Linked DNA regions of Homo sapiens: region 2 is linked to region 1. The links come from fine-mapping of genetic effects on gene expression. A gene starts in region 1. The other region holds a variant in brackets. All regions are shown on one strand. Distances are between the middles of the regions.

The links.
Region 2: its variant is fine-mapped to the expression of ADAMTS7 in lung (TOPMed, PIP above 0.99).

The regions. Positions count from the first base shown.
Region 1 is chr15:78,807,356-78,815,675 of GRCh38, reverse strand. It overlaps ADAMTS7 (ADAM metallopeptidase with thrombospondin type 1 motif 7), which reads left to right and starts at 4,212. Exons shown (of 24, transcript NM_014272.5): 1 at 4,212-4,555. The coding sequence starts at 4,456. RefSeq lists a silencer at 3,765-4,184.
Region 2 is chr15:78,755,172-78,763,491 of GRCh38, reverse strand. ADAMTS7 (ADAM metallopeptidase with thrombospondin type 1 motif 7) reads left to right here. Exons shown (of 24, transcript NM_014272.5): 23 at 927-1,089; 24 at 3,914-4,286. The coding sequence ends at 4,071. It overlaps LOC112268143 (a long non-coding RNA gene), which reads left to right and starts at 5,747. Exons shown (of 2, transcript XR_002957697.1): 1 at 5,747-5,844; 2 at 7,010-7,528. RefSeq lists enhancers at 5,561-6,365, 6,481-6,690, 6,366-7,170. The variant G/A (reference allele first, on the strand shown) is at 4,129.

The sequences.
Region 1 (8,320 bases):
ATCAAGATACAGGGGGGAAGCTCACTAACTGGATACTTGACACTCTGAACAATGACATAAAATATGTGTTGAAATATCAAATCTCTTGCTTTGTTCAAAATGTACACTTTGGGGTAGGCATGGTGGCTCACGCCTATAATCCCAGAACTTTGAGAGGCCAAGGTGGGCGGATCACCTGAGGTCAGGAGTTTGAGGCCAGCCTGGCCAATATGGTGAAACCTTGTCTCTACTAAAAATACAAAAATTAGCTGGGTGAGGTGGCGAATGCCTGTAGTCCCAACTACTTGGGAGACCGAGGCAGGAGAATTGCTTGAACCCAGGAGGCAGAGGCTGTAGTGAGCCAAGATCGTGCCACTACACTCCAGCCTGGGCAACAGAGCGAGACTCCATCTCAAACAACAACAACAACAATAAAACCGAAAAACACAAAAACAAAATGTACACTTCACTCCCCGAAATTTGGAGTTGGCTGTTCCTGTTTTTCCAGTTGAATTATTTTTGCATCATGAGGGCATGACTAAGGCTTATCATTTTTTGTATCCTTTTTTTGTATCCTATGGTTTCCGAGAAGCTTTAAAATGAAGGCACCCAGCAGGGTGTGGATGGAGTAAAGACCAGGACCTGGGACAGAGGAGGAAGCAGGCAGGGACTGTCATCAGACGTGGGATTTGAAAACACAAACTCCAAGGCTGCATTTCAAAAAAGCCTCCAATCTACTGTTGGGCCTTGGCAGCATGGAGGCAGTTTGTGGTGTTGGCCAGGGAGGGCTGTGTGTCCCCTCCCCAGATCCTCCTGATCTCTAGGTTTTGCTGTGCTGGTGGCAGGGATCACAAAGACCAAGACATGACCTTAGCATCTCACGGTGTGTCGGGGTTGACAGACCCATAACCAGACAATAGCAGTCTAGTGAGCTGTCAACGGGGATGGCAAAGGGTGCTCTGGGGAACCTAAGAGGTCAGGGGGGACGTGCTGGAAGGGGTGACGTACAGCCTAGGTCTGAAAGGACAAGTCTCAGGGACATCAAGTTTATGCCCATCTTTTATTTATTTTTTATTTTTTGAGACTGAGTCTCGCTCTGTCGCTGGCTGGAGTGCAGTGGCAGGATCTCGGCTCAGAGCAAACTCTGCCTCCCAGGTTCAAGCAATTATCCTGCCTCAGCCTCCTGAGTAGCTGGGATTACAGGCATCTGTCCGCCACAACGCCCAGCTAATTTTTTTTGTATTTTTATTAGAGGAGGGGGTTTCACCATGTTGGCCAGGTTGGTCTCGAACTCCTGACCTCAAGTGATCCGCCATCCTCGGCCTCCCAAAGTGCTGGGATTACAGGTGTGAGCCACTGCGCCTGACCAGTGTCCAGCTTTTTAAGATTTATTTTTATTTCTAGAGACAGGGTCTCTCATTCTCTCGCCTAGGCTGGAGTGCAGTGGTGCAATCAGAGCTCACTGCAGCCTCGATCTCCTGGGTTCAAAGGATCCTCCCTCCACATTCTCCTGAGCAGGTAGGACAACAGGCATGCATCCCATGCCTGGCTCACATCTTCTCCCTTTCACCTTCACATGACTGGCTCCTTTTTGTCATTCTGGTATCACAGCTTAAATGTCACCTTTTTAGGAAGGCCTTCCCTGACCACCCCATGGAAAGTAGACTCTAGTCACTTCCGGTTTTATTTTCTTCAAAGCACCTCTCTGTAGCTGGTCTTGTTTATATGGTGGTCTGAATTGTTTATCCATCTGTCTATTTGCTTGCTGTCCATGGCCTCCTCCAGAGTGGGAGCTCCAGGGAACAGAGACCTTATCCACCTGTTCACAGCTGTGTCCCCAGTGCCCTGGGTCTGCAGTGCATACTTGATCTTATGGAGTGAAGAAGAGATGTGCCAGGTGATGAGGGCAGAGTGGAGGTATGTGAACAGGGAGGGTATCTCTAGAATGCACTGTGCAGGTCAAGGTGGAGAAGGAATTTGGCTTTGACACCAAGATGGGGGGACAAGAGGCTTAGCCTGAGGTACAAATGGGAAAAGGGGGAATCTAGACAACCTTGAGGGAGAAGTTTGACTAAGACAGGGAGCAGATATGTGGGGTGGGAATTAGAGGGGACACCCAGTCCATGGAGGGGTATTATCAGTACTTTTTTTGTTTTTTTTGAGACAGGGCCTCACTTTGTTGCACAGGCCGGAATGCAGTGGCGTGATCTTGGCTACTGCTCATTGGTGGGGCCAGGCCTGGCCCAGCCTCAATCTCCTGGACTCAAGTGATCCTCCCACCTCAGCCCCCCAAATAGCTGGGATCACAGGCATATGCCACCATGCTGGGCTAATTTTTAATTTTTTTGTAGAGACGGTGTTTCACTATGTTGCCCAGGCTGGTCCCAAACTCGGGGCTCAAGTGACCCTCCCACCTCAGCCTCCCAAAGTGTTGAGATTATAGGTGTGAGGCACCTTGCCTGCTTTTTGTTTGTTTGTTTGTTTTTCCCTAGAGACAGTGTCTCAGTATGTCTCCCAGACTGGCCTGGAACTTCTGGGTTCAAGTAATCCTCCCTCCTCAGCCTCCTGAGTATCACTGGGACTACAGGCCTGTGCCACTATACCCAGCTATTATCAGTATCTTTAATAGGAGGAAGACAAGAATGTTTTTAGACTGACGGTCACCAACCCAAGGAGACCAAGGAAAGCGGGGGACACCTGGAGCAGGACCTTTGAGGAGACAGGAGGGGAGGGAGCCACAGAGCCCTGGTGGAAGCATTGTCTCTGACTGCTGGAGGGCACCTGTTTCACTGTGTCCAGATGGAGGGAGAAGTGAGTGGGTGCCAGCTACAAAGGCTCATTGTATGCAGTGTGCATGGTAGGATGTGGTGGTCTGAATTGTCCATGTCACTGAGCAGCAAGACCAGCTGGTGTAAGCAGTGGGGAAGAAATGCAAGGTGGTTGGGTAGGGGCCAGGAGTCAAGCAGTAGATGTAGCTGGGAGGGAAGTAGGTGAAGCCAGGAGGGGCTGGTAGGTTGGGCGAAGAGGAAGGTATCAAGGGACTGGAGGAAGAGCAATACATAGTGGGACTGTGAAGGTGGAAAGGACTGCAGAGTCGGGTCTGACAGGGGGGCACCTGAGCTTCGGATTTCCAAGATGGAGCAGTTCTGAGGGATGACACAGCCCAGGCTTTGGCCCTGAGACCTGATGGCTGAGGTGGAGTGGAAGGTCACTGGAGATGAGATGGAGGAAGTAGGTGACCCTGTACTACACAAATTCCCTAGAGGACAGACAGGTTGAGGGTGGAGAGGAAGCCAGAAGTGAGCTTCCAGGAATTGAATGAAAGGGCCCAGGAGATTGGACAATGAGGAGGTGTGCGGGCCTCAGAGGGCAGGGGGCACACAAAGACTAACCAAGGGGAGGAAGCTGACCGCAACCGCCCCGAGGACAAGACGGGCGTCCTCGGTACAGGGCCATGTTTAGTGACGGCAGAAGGGAGAAAGGAAGCTCCTGGGAGCACAGGGGGAAGGGGAGCCGGAAGCCAGAGCCAGGGCTGGGGCCACGAAGGACAGACGGCCGGTGTTGGAGGCGGAGGCTGGCCTGGGATGTGAGGCTGGGGTTGGCCGGCCTCCAGGCTCCCCGGGAGCCCCTGCTGAAAGTCTGTGGGCGCTGGCCTGGGCGAAGCCGCGGTCCCCCGCCTGTGGGCTCAACTCTGCGCTCTGCTTCAAGCAAACGCACTAGGAGAGGAGTCAGGAGACGAGGAACTGCGGGGCCCCACCTCGCGCGGGCAACCGCTGTCTGTCCAGGGAGGGCCCAGGCCTGTCTCCGCAGATAGCTTTGAAGCAGGGCCCCCGGTGTGGCCCTCTGGAGGCCTCCCGCGTCCCCTTTTGAGGGGCTGCCCTGCTTGGCCTGGGGAACACAGCGAAGGGCACCTCGTGGAGCCCAATTTAGGGACAACACATTAATTCTGGAAATTCCAGATTCTTTCCGGGGGTCCTCAACCGGCCGGGGTCGGAAAGGCCTGGCAGGGCTCCGCCGGCAGGGGGCGCTCGGGACAGGGGGGCGAGGGGGGCGGACATCCGTTGCGGGGCGCTGCCTGCGCCGGGCCGGCCAGCCCTTGAGGCGAGCACGGCCTGCGGGGCCGATGAGGCCGGGGCCGGCCGGGGCGGGGCGGGGCCAGGGGCGGGGGAAGGAGTCCGAGGGGCGGGGCGGGGGCCGGCAGCCGCCCTCCCTCACTCTCCCTCCCTTTCTTTCTTTCTTTCTTTCTCTCCTTCTAGCTCTCTTGTCTTTTCTTTGCCTCTGCAGCGGCCAAGGGGGCGGGCCCTGCAGCCTTTGTTGCCCGCGGACCGAGCGCAGCCGAACGGAGTCGGGGCCGGGTCGCCGGGAGCTGCACGCCGGCCGGGCATGTCCTGAGCCGGACCTGGGACCAGGCAGCGACCGGACGGGACGGACGAGAGCGTGCGCGCGGGGTCACCCGGCGGCCGCCCGGTTCCTGCCATGCCCGGCGGCCCCAGTCCCCGCAGCCCCGCGCCTTTGCTGCGCCCCCTCCTCCTGCTCCTCTGCGCTCTGGCTCCCGGCGCCCCCGGACCCGCACCAGGTGGGTGTCCGCCCCTCCCCGGCCAGCCGGGCCTGCCACCCCTTCCCGCTCCCCCAGTCTCGGTTTTGTCCCTCCTCACCTTTGTGGACCCCGCGCCGGCTCCGCTGTGCCTGGAGTTGGTCGCGTCTTCCGCTCCCTGGGTATTAGGGGACAGTAGTCGGGGTCGGGCCGGGCCGGGAGCGAAGCCGCGCTTCTGGGGAAACTTCCTCGGCCCCTGATTCAGTTACTGACACTGCCTGTCGCCTGGAATAAGCCCCTTCCGCTCTTCGGGCTCCGGTTTCCCCACCTCGGGTGCAGCAACGCGCCTGGCTCCCGGGAGAGCTCTCGTCCGAGTGGGCTGGACGGAGCGCGGTTTACCCACTGAGGATTTGGTTTCTCACACTCCTTAGCGAGGCTCGCCTGGAAAGCGGGCTGGCCGGGACACAGCCGGCGAGGGCGCCAGGTCGCAGGTCTTCGCGGGACCCCGCCGCCCCCCCAGCTCCCGCCCACCGCATCTGGGCTGCTGGCGCGGCCCCTGGCGGCTCGGGGGGCCGGGTCTTGCGCGGTCCTTGCACTTCCTGCCTCTCCCTTCCCCAAGTGTGAAGACGCCGGGAGTGGAGCGGGGAGCAGGAGCTTCTTTTCCCGGCCATGGGTTAACTCTCCCCGCCCCGCCGGGCCGGCCTCCGACGAGCCTCTGGCCTGCGTCCAGACTCTTGTTTGGCGGCGACCTGCCGGGCGGCCGCGCTGCTGGCGCGTCCGACGCAGCCGGCCTGGGAATTCAGTAACCGAGGATGTAGGAGACCCCAGGCCCGGTGCTCAGGGAGCTCCCAGTCAGGGGAGCCGGTGGATAGTGGGGAGAGTCCTGCAATAGAGCCGACCGGCAGGCTTTGTAGGAGAGGAGGGGCATGAGGTTGGAGAGACTGGAAGGATGGATGGATTCTGGATGAGCTAGAAGGGCGTGGAGGGAGTGGGGCCCTCCCCTGGGGAGCATCAGTCGGGGGACTGGATTAGGGTTGCTTGCTGGGATGGGGTCGACCTGCCTCCCCACTGGAGGGATTGTGACGAGAAAGTAGTCTGGGCGGGAAGGATGGGGACATTGACTCTTGATCTTAGAGGTTTGGGAAGCCGTTGAGGGGAGCAGCTGATGAAAGCAGTGTTTTGGAAAGATTTGGTCTAGCAGCCATGCGCAGAGCGCAGAGGGAGCGAACATTTAATGAGCACCTACTGTGTGCCAGCCTCACGGGTTCTTATTTCTCATCATCTCCACAACAACCGTGCAAAGCAAGTGATGGAAAGTCCTTTTATGGACCAGCAAACAGGCTCAGAGTAGAGCGACCTGTGGGGTTGGACTCCTGAGCTTCCTGAATGAGGCTTGTGTTTTCCACTGTCCAGAGCTGGGGGCTGAGGAGGATGAACCGGGCGATGGGAATGGGAGAGCAGGAAAATGCTTCCCTCAGGACTTGGGTCCTGGCCCCCTGGCAGCTGTGGGAAGAGTTGGGTGCGGTCAACCTCGTGGGATTCTTATGAGGATTAAATGAGATATTGAATATGTCAGTTGCTCAGGCAGGACACAGTGACTACAATGTAGTGGTCATTATTTTTATTAATCTGCCAGGCCGACCCAGGACTCCCCAGATGACCTGGACCTGCTGTTTGAGGGTGGAGGCAGGCCAGGCACTCTCTCCAACCTAATCTGGGCACAAACACTCCAAGGGTGAAGTCTGTCTCTAGTGTTCCCATAGATATAGAGCATGGGGTCCTTCCTGTTCTGCACTCCCTCAGGATTGGTGACTCTGAGGCTGCTGGCCTGTTTGTCATTTTCTTTGAAGCCCAGGACCTAAGCCTGGGGCTCCTCCTACCACTGAATGTTACCTTCTTTAAGACCAAAGGGCTCATCCTGGGCTCACTTTTAGGAAAATATATCCCTTTTCCCCACTTGTGACTGACCCAGGGACCTGCTAGGGTTTCTGAGGCTGGAGCCCAGTCATGTGTCCTCCTCATGCCGTATGGCACATGTGAACTCTGTGTGCATGTGTTTCTGTGCATACTAGAACTCACAGAGGAGGGCATTCACATACTACCCCCCACCCTGCCAGTTATTTTTCCTCCTTGGCATGAGCTGTGGGTCATTTGAAGGGCTGGATTGTAACTCAGGTTCTTGATAGGGAGGTGAGGGTAAACACCATCTTGGCATTTCTTTGGTAGAAGCTCCAAAGTGACAGTTCTGTCACCCAGGGGAGATATTAAAAGTATTTAACACCCAATGTGGCAGGAGCTTGGTCCAATCAGAACAGACCTCCTGACTTGGCAGAATAGATTTGGCCATGAATCTCTGGCAGTCCTCTTGAATGGTGCCTGTTGCCATCCCACTGTCACTTGAACTCTGCAGGCTCAGCTTTGTTGCAAGCACATAACCGGTCGAGACTGGAACCTGCAATTACTCCTTGCTGGCACTGGGTGGTGCTAGTTTCAGCCACCAACATCTCTACTGAGTGAGGTCAACTAGGCTACAGTGAAAGTTACTTATTTTTAAACTTACCCCTGCACTTTTTAAAAATATTTTAATGGCAAAACAATACAAGTTCACTATAAAAAAAGGTAATGCTGGCGGGCTGCAGTGGCTCATGCTTGTAATCCCAGCACTTTGGGAAGCTGAGGCTGGCGGATCACTTGAGGCCAGGAGTTCGAAACCAGCCTGGCCAACATGGTGAAACTCCATCTCTATTAAAATACAAAAATTAGCTGGACATGGTGGTGCATGCCTGTAATCCCAGCTCCTCGGAAGGCTGAGGCATGAGAATTGCTTGAACCCAGGAGGCAGAGGTTGCGGTGAGCCGAGATCGCACCACTGCATTCTAGCCTGGGTGACACAGGGAGACTGTCTCAAAAGAAAAAATCTGAACAAAACAAGAAAAAAATTATTGCAATAAAAGTGGCAACATCCTGTAAGTCTATTCTTTTATTGTTGATTGAAAAACATGTTTTAGACCAGACACAGTGATTCACACCTGTAATTCCAGCACTTTGGGAGGCCAAGGTAGGCAGATCGTTTGAGCCCAGAAATTCAAGACCAGCCTGGGCAGCATAATGAGACCCCATCTCTACAAAAAAATTTAAAAATTATCCAGGCCTGGTAGTCCACGCCTGTAGTCCCAGCTATTTGGGAGGCTGAGGTGGGAGGATTGCATGAGCCCAGGAGGTCAAGGCTGCAGTAAACCACGATCGCATCACTGCACTCCAGCCTGGGAGATCTCAGAAAAAAAAAAAAGAAATAAATAAATAAAAACATGTTTTTTGTTTTGTTTTGTTTTGTTTGTTTTTAAGCCATTAGGCAAACAGATAAAACAACAAGTTTTTAAAAGAAAAAGCTAAATATACTTTAGAAGTTCTCTTGCTAATTTTCAGTCATAACTTAGCTCACATTTGCTATGTGCCAGCTGTTGTTATAAGCACTTACATACTAACTCATTTAATTCTTACACAACCAAAGAGAGCAGCTGTAATTATTATCATCCCCATTTTACAGATGGAGAAACTGAGATTCTGAGTGGTTGAGTAATTTACCCATGGTCTCACAGATATGGGTAGCAGAGCTGGGATTCAAACACAGCCTCTCTGGCTCTAGAGCTCACTAATCCGAATGCTTTTCACCTGCGGCATAGCTCTACTTAGCCCTGTCCACATTTTTGAACTTAATAGGATGCTTCTTTGTAAGTCATCTGGAATTTCTGTCTTGCAATATTTGCCCAGGATCTACAGCAGGTATTCTCAACAGGACTGTACATC
Region 2 (8,320 bases), 52 kb after region 1:
CCTTCCAAGGAGGGGTCTGGGGTTGAGACCCGAGGGAGGAGTCAGTGATGCCAAGGACAGGGATCGAAGGGACATCAGGTGTGAAGTCTGAGGCAGGAATGACGAGCTTGAGGGGGCCGGGGAGCCCGGCAAAGGCCAGCGGCAGAAGGGGGCGTAAGAGGGGCCTCAGATGGGCAGGACACCTTCTGCTGGGCCTGTTTGGAACTGAGGGGTTCAGAAATCTCAGATTTGGGCCCTGAGCTGGGTCCTGGAGTCAGCTGGGCCAGCGTTTGCGTCTTTGTCCGACTGGCTGCTGAGTGACTCTGGGCAGGTTGCTTTGCGTTGCTGGGTCACTGTTTTCTCATCTGTAAAACTGGAACAGCTTAGGAGAGGAGGGTCAGGAGGATTAAATGAAGGAACGCAACGAAGCACAGGGCCGGGCACAGCATGACACTGGCACAGACTCAGTGCATGTTTAGGGCTGATAACAACGAAGCCTGGCGGGCTGGGCCCCGGCTGTGAAACTGTCTCCTGCCCTCCTGCCCATGGGCTGCGGCAGGTCCTCTGCCCTGTCCCTCGGGCACAGCGGTGTCTCGCCCACATCTCTGCCCACTGCTGCATCAGGGCTCCATCCCGGCGCCCCTGCCCAGGCTTCTCAGGCATGTCCTGTGTGAGGGGCTCACTGCCCTGCCGCCCCGAGGGCTGTCCCACGGTTCTCACGCCCCTTCCCTCTGCAGGAGCCGATCCCACAAGTGAGAGTGGGGTTCCAGCACCAAGTGGGCTCTAGGAATGGGACCAGGTGCTCCAGGAGGCACTGAGGGGGCGGCTGGGAGCAAGGCCAGGCCAGTCAGGCACAGGGCGCAGGGACGGCTTCCCAGAGGAGGTGTCCCTGCCCCCACTGCTAGGGCTGGCCCTGGAGACACTCATTCCTCCCCCGCTCCCCTCAGTGCTCAGGCCCCTGTGGTGGTGGTGTCCAGCGGCGCCTGGTCAAGTGTGTCAACACCCAGACAGGGCTGCCCGAGGAAGACAGTGACCAGTGTGGCCACGAGGCCTGGCCTGAGAGCTCCCGGCCGTGTGGCACCGAGGATTGTGAGCCCGTCGAGCCTCCCCGTGAGTCCCCTGACCCCAGGCTCCCTGCTGAAGTGAGGTGGGGTGGGGAGGGTGATGGGGAAATGGGGTCGTCAAACCATTGTGCCCACGGCACTGGCTGGTTCCATCTGTAGTCTGGGCTCAGGAGCCACATGGCCACTGAAAATCCTGATGCCACAGGATGCCATGCTGGAGGCTGGGCTGTGCTGGGAGTCAGTCAAGGGGAGTCCCGGCCACACAACATCCCATAGGCAGCTGTCTGACCTTGGGGGAGTAGAGGGAGTGGCCCTGGCCCCTGATTTGCTGTGTGAACCTGGGTAAGCTCTTTCTCCTCTAGGTCTCAGTCTTCCCACAGTGAGACCAGGGATGTCCCTGAGGCTGTGTGAAAACTGGGCCTGGGTGAGTCCCTGTCCCCAGCCCTGGCCTGTCCATTCCCTGGCTAGAGGACTGCCTAGAGTGAGCAATGGAACCACAGGAAGGGCCTCCTTTCCAGGGTCCTGCTAATGAGGTAATGGGGTTTGAGGCAGGAAGGGCCTCCCTTCCAGGGTCCTGTTAATCCCAGTGGTGGGGGGTTTCCTGGCCAGCTGGGTCCTGGTGGAAGGGCCTGAGGTAGAGGTGGTTCTGGACACCCCTGCCGCCGCCTCCAGCATGTGTGCGTGCGCGCACACACACACACACGCCAACACACACACACACAGTCATACACTTCCTTCCTGCAGCCCCAGCTGCTCCCGGAAGTGCTGAGGGCAGGAAATGGGGTGGCCCTGGAGTGTCACCTAGGCTCCCCTCACCAGCTGTGTGGCCTTGGGCTCCATTTCCCTCTCAGGGCCTTCATGTGCTGAATAAAGGGGCTGCCAAGCCCCATCCTTGCATAAATGAGGTCTGGGCATGAAGCACGCAGCACTGCGTGGGGATCCAGGTGGTGCTCAGGGAAGGTGGCTTTTTCCCCTCCCCCACAGCCACTGTCATCCCCAATTGCAAGGTCAGGGAGAGGGCCTGGGGCTGACCCTGCCAGTCTAAGGAATCCAGAAGCCGTGGCGTGAAGAGCTGTGTCCCCTGTGCTATTGGCTGTCTGCTCCCTGCCCCTAGGACAGAGTCCTCAGCCAGGGCCCTCAAGCTGGCATTCAGGGCCCCCTGCAATCTCCCCGGTCTGCCTTCTCCCCTTGTCCAACGCTGCCTTCTCTACCTGTGCCAGCTCCTGGGCAGCCCTCATTCAGGCTCAGAGTGGCCCCTGCCATGCCTCGCTGCCCTGCCTCTGGCATGGGTGGTCTTCCTGCCTCAAACCTCAAGGCCCAGTGGCAGCGCCCCCACCCTGTCCTGCCTGCCCTCAGCACGCACCCAGCCAGCATCTCAGAGCACTCCTATGTGCTACCTGAGCTGGGTGCTGGCACCACGTCTCTCACCTTTATGGCTAGGGCTGGCCACAGGGAGCGGGGTGGTTATGATCCCAGTGGGGGAGGACCAGATGGGGCAGAGAACAGAAACTGAGGCCCCTGGGGGCCTAGAACCAAGGACGGATGGCCCAGGAGGCTCTGGGCTTGCAAGGTCTCCCAGGGGCGGGTGTGAGTGGGCTGCAGGGAGTGGGCTATGGGGGCTGGTTAGGTGGCTGAACTAGAAGCTGTCCTAAGTGAGGAGTTTTCTGCCATCAGTGAACAGTGGAGGGGGGCTGGGAAGGTGTCTTGGACTTGGAGACCTGGAATTCCCAGATGTTCTGCTGGTCTGTGGGACAGTTGGCGGGACATGTGGAAAGCTGGGAAACTCGTGTGTGTGTGCTCACTGCAGTGACACAGCATGGCCACATCCATTTGCTGTGGAGGTGGGGTTGACAGAGGAGGGAACCGAGGCCCAAGAGGTGAAGCAGCTTGTCTGAGGTCACCCCGGGCGACCAGGATGCAGGCCTGCAGATGTGCACTTTGGAGCTCTGCCTGGAGCTGGGGTGGAGGAGCCTGCCTGCTGCCTCGTGCCCTCTGCCGGGCCTGGGGGATGTCCCAGGCCCAGGGCTGGCTGCTGCCTTCCTGCTCCTCCTCCCCAGGGAGGTCTGCTGGAGTAAGCAGGGCCCGGGTGGCAGCTGGGGGCTGTCAGCAGTGGCAGTGGCATCAGGAGCAAGGCCAGGAGGCTGGAAACAAGCCACTTCCCAAAATAGCTCTGATAACCACGGGGCAGGAGGGCCCAGCCAAGCCTCAGCCCTGACAAGCACAGCCTGCAGCTGGCCTCCCTCCCCAGCAGGCTGGGCTCAGTCTCTGGTTTCCGCTGACGGCCTGTAAGGCCCACTCACTCTAGGCTTCGTGGCCCACCTGAGAAGTGGGAGGCTGGCCTGGGAGATGGGACCCTGTGACTCAGAACCCGAGGCTGAGTACAGCCCCTGTGGCTGGAGGTGGTCACGGAGGCCTGGCAGGACAGATGCACTGGGGCAGGGGGCGGTGGCGGGAGTCGGGGGCAGAGGCCGCTGCAGGCTGGCAGGAGGCCCCGGGACCGCAGTTCTGTGCCAGGATCTGTCCGGGAACACCAGGGATGAGCAAGGATGGAGATGGGGTGGCAAGGCGTCGCCCTGGGCAGGCTCTTTAACAGGCATGTGAGGGGGTCAGGGTGGGGTCTCAGGACCTTTCCTCCAGAAACCTCAGCCCAGCAGCACCCGTTCTCGAGTCCTGGGGTTGGCCATGAGTAGGTGGGACAGAGACAGCAACAGTTGGAGACCTGCAACTCCGGTTCGGGAGCCGCTCCAGAAACTGGGGCTCTCTGCTTGGTGGGGAGCTGCTGGAGCCTCCTTAAGGTGGTTGGCGTAGGGAGCCAGGTTCTGGGTACCCCAAGCTACTGGTTCTGATGCCTCTCTGCCCCCCCACTCCAGGCTGTGAGCGGGACCGCCTGTCCTTCGGGTTCTGCGAGACGCTGCGCCTACTGGGCCGCTGCCAGCTGCCCACCATCCGCACCCAGTGCTGCCGCTCGTGCTCTCCGCCCAGCCACGGCGCCCCCTCCCGAGGCCATCAGCGGGTTGCCCGCCGCTGACTGCGCCAGGATGCACAGACCGACCGACAGACCTCAGTGCCCACCACGGGCTGTGGC[G/A]GAGCTCCCGCCCCCTGCGCCCTAATGGTGCTAACCCCCTCTCACTACCCAGCAGCAGGCTGGGGACCTCCTCCCCCTCAAAAAAGGTATTTTTTTATTCTAACAGTTTGTGTAACATTTATTATGATTTTACATAAATGAGCATCTACCATTCCAAAGCACAGCGTGACTTCGTCTTGGATTTGGAGAATCTTAAAAGTGAGAAACTCTTCCCCCCACCCCTCTGCCCAAAACTCCACCGCCACAGCACCTCGGCAGGCGTGGCTTTTCACCTGCTCCTCTGGGACAGATCTGCAGGGGGCAGCGTAGAAAATGAGTCCCTGAGAGCATGGCATCTGGTGAGGCACGGAAGGCCTCAGAAGCTGGGGGGCTGCTCCCCAGGGAGGGCTGTCTGCAGAGGGTGGGGTTCTGGGGGCAGGAAGGTCTTCCGGGCAGGGGCACGGCTTGGCCCTTACTTGCTGCCTGCCTTCAGCTCAGGCTCCCAGCCTTCCCTGGGGCCCCACTCTGTGGTCCTCAGAGACCTGTTCCACAGGGATTGAGCCCACCATGTCACTTGCAGGGACTGCCCCCTGGAGTGGTGGGGACTGGGGCCCCCATGGGGACCTCCCTGGCCCTGTCTGTTCTATCTGTTGACTCTTCTGCAAAAAGCAGGCAGAGAGGGGAAGAGCAGGCTGGCCAGCTGTGCCCTACTGTGTCCCCACGTGTCCCTTCATCTCTGTGCCCAGAGATAGGGCTGGGCTAATTGTCACTGCCTCAGGTTGGCCCCTTTCCCACCACCAGCCCCAGCTACAGGTTCCTACCACGCTGATCTATGGTCCAGCACCTGGCACCTGCCTACCCACAGCCCCTTCCCCTCCCATAAAATCTAGTCCCATGGAGCCAGACAGTAGTGCCCACAGCAGGGAACAGATGGGCATGAAGGTGCTTTGAAGAGGGTCCTGGCCTGACCAGGGGCGGGAGGCTGGGGAAGGGGCGGACACTGTCCCCCCAGGCCCAGGCCCAGCCCTGGATCCAACCCTGGCCTCTGGCTGTGAGCCTTAGACTCAGCCGTTGACAATTTCTTCCTCAGCCCTCCCCCTGGAAGGTGTTACGCCCCTTCTCCAGGTGGGGGACACTAAGGTTCAGAGAGCTCGCCCTGCAGCCTACAGGGGTCACCTCTCACATTCTACTCTCCAGCGTATGACAACCCTGGACGAAAGGTGAATGTAGCCCTGGAGCCTGCATGTGGCAGCCGCAGCCACTCAGGGCTGGGTATATGCTGGGGATGGAGGGGACACCACTGAAAATCACTCCTGGCTGGGCGCGGTGGCTCACACCTGTAATCCCAGCACTTTGGGAGGCTGAGGCGGGCGGATCACCTGAGGTCAGGAGTTTGAAACCAGCCTGGCCAATGTGGCAAAACCCCATTTCTGCTAAAAATACAAAAATTAGCCAGGTGCGGTGATGGGGACCTGTAATCCCAGCTACTTGGGAGGCTGAGGAAGGAGAATCGCTTGAACCTGGGAGGCGGAGGTTGCAGTGAACTGAGTTCGCACCTTTACACACCAGCCTGGGCGACAGAGCGAGACTCCATCTCACACAAAAAAAATAAAATAAAATTACTCCTTAGGGGCTGAGACCAAGAAACAGTATCAGAGGCTGAACCCCTCGGCGATGAGCGTCTGTCCCAGGACTTGGAAGGGAGGGAGGGAGCATGGCCACGGCAGCTGCCTGCAGGTGCGTGTCCTGCTGCTCCCCAATTCAACATGCTCACCTCATTTCACACCAACAAGCCCGATCCTCAGAGGAGGAACTCAAGGCTCTGAGAGGAAGTACCTGGCCCAAGGGCACATGCCCTGGTGACACAGGCCCATCCTAGGCTCCGACTGCCCACCTCCAAGCTCCAGGCTACCCTGAGCAGGTGGAAGAGGGAGAGGGCCCCAAGCAGGTCCCAGTGGTGGCTTTGCACAGAGAGGGCAGCCTGCCAGAGTTCACGCAGGAAAGCAAGTTGCTGGGCAAGCTAGCGTGAGTCCCAGCCCCGCTGTGCTGCCCGAGGGTGGAGGAGCGTCAGGCGTGCTTCCTGTCTGTCTGCAGCAGCCCGGCTGGCCCAAAGAGACCCTGGGGACCCACGCTCTGAGTCACGGCTTCCCAGGCCTTAGTCAGAACGGCCCCTGGTGGCACTCCCTTCCAAGGGGTGGGGAGCAGGGCCTGTCGACTTGCTCCTGACCCACACACCGAACCAGTCCCTGTCCCAGCTCTGCCGCCGCCGCTCTGCTGCGTGACTCCAGGAACCCCCAGCCTCGCTGAATCCACGTCCCCAGAAGAGAAAAGCCTGCCAGGCCTTGGCCTGCCCTGTCTGGGAATCCTTGATGGAGCCACCCCGAAACACCCCTATGGGAACCCCTTTGGTCTTCATCATTCTTGGGTGTTTTCCACTGATGACTGGGGGTGTCCCCAGTGGCAGCTGGGCCTGAGCTGTCAGCCAAGACGGGAGACAAACAAGCCTGTGACTCAGGCAGGGCATGGCACAGCTGGCGGAAGGAGGCATGCCTGTTCTTTGTGGCTGGGCGGGGGGTTATCCGGACACAGGGAGTCTCCAGCTTCCGGCTTTCCCACCTCGGTGCCCCCAGCCCACACCTGCAGCTTGGCCATGGTTCTTGGGGCCTCCCAAGGCTGCCCCTGCTGGCAAAGGCATCCTGATGCACCCGCCCCAGGGTGAGCCAAGGGCAGAGACACCCAGAAACGCCAGGCTGGAAGGTTGGAGAGCCCCTCCTCGCCCCCCGCAACACCAATAAGCCCTGCCCCACCCTCCAAGCCCTTGGGGTGAGCCCCATCACTAGTGACTATAACTGAATTTCAATGCAGAATATTATACAAATTAGTAGTTTATTTCTTCCTTTAGTATTACAGTTCCAAAACATAACTTGAAGGTCAGCACAGGAGCTGCTGTGATATAAAAGGAGAGAGTCACCTGGCGCCCCCTGCAGTCCTCCAGTTGCCCAGCAGCGGTGGGACGCTCAGTGGCACACACTGGGTCTCTGTATGGCCTCCCACCTGCAAGGACTTCCCCGGGCAGGCCCAGCTGCCCAGAAGCCCCGGAACACACAGGAAGACAACACTATAGGATGGCAGGTGGGGATCTGTGCAATACAAACATGTAGCTAGAAAACCCAACTGAGGATCTGTCTAGAATACTTCCGATATCAATATACCGTAGTTGTTGAAACCAGAACCGTCTCCAGCCGTCAGCAGTCTTGGCGGCTACTGTACAGCTGTCAGCATGACTACAGGCAGCACCCGAGGCTATCTGGGGTAAGAAGTGGGCCTGCACATCACATCGGTGAGTCAGTGAGAGTCAGGGCCAGAGGGAAAAGCAACTCGGAGGCTGAGGCTGGCACAGATACACACAAGGGAGTCACACACATAACATAAGAACTTGTTATATAAAATAGATATGTGGAATCTAGAAACACCTTGAGAAAATAGCCTATAAAAATATAAACTGTAGTGAGAGTGTACAAAAGTATTAACAGAGGTTCAACCCATAAAAAACCCCATCCATTTAAAAGCTGGCAATTCGCAGCAGATGTGGGGAGGGAGCTCCCCTCGGTCCTGGTGCGCGCATTTGGACAGGCCTTTGGGTTTCCCAGCTGGCAGGGTCCCCCTTGCAGGGGCCACGGGCTGGGTGTTGGGGTGAAGGTTCAGAGGAGGAACAGCAGCTTGGGGCAGCCCCTGTCAGAAGGGCCCCCTGCCATGGCAGCCAGTGGAGGCCAGGGACCTTCAGGGCACTGGAGGGGACAGAGCAGCTCTTTCCTCAGTGACCCGAGGGAGGGGAAGTGTTAGCGCAAAAGAGTGGGGCCCACAGTCCTGGAAGGAGGAGTTGGCTCCGTCCCGTTCCCAAACTTTAACCAGGCGGAGCCGCCCTCTCTTGCCTTCTGGACACGCATCACTTGATTCCAGGCAGGAGAACCTCTGAGAAAGTGTCCCCAGTCCCTTTCCTCCAGGAACTCTCCTGCTGTCGCACACACACACTACCCGGCAGCTGCTGACAACTGCCTGGAAACACTAACATACCACCGTGGGTTGCAGCCACGACGGGCCCCTGGTCAGGTGCATCTCTCAGGGCAAACTGGACAACACGAGCCTGTCCCTAAAGGCAGCTCTTAGCCCCAGGACATGGCAGTGTGTGCTGGCATGTTCCAGGGGCCATTGG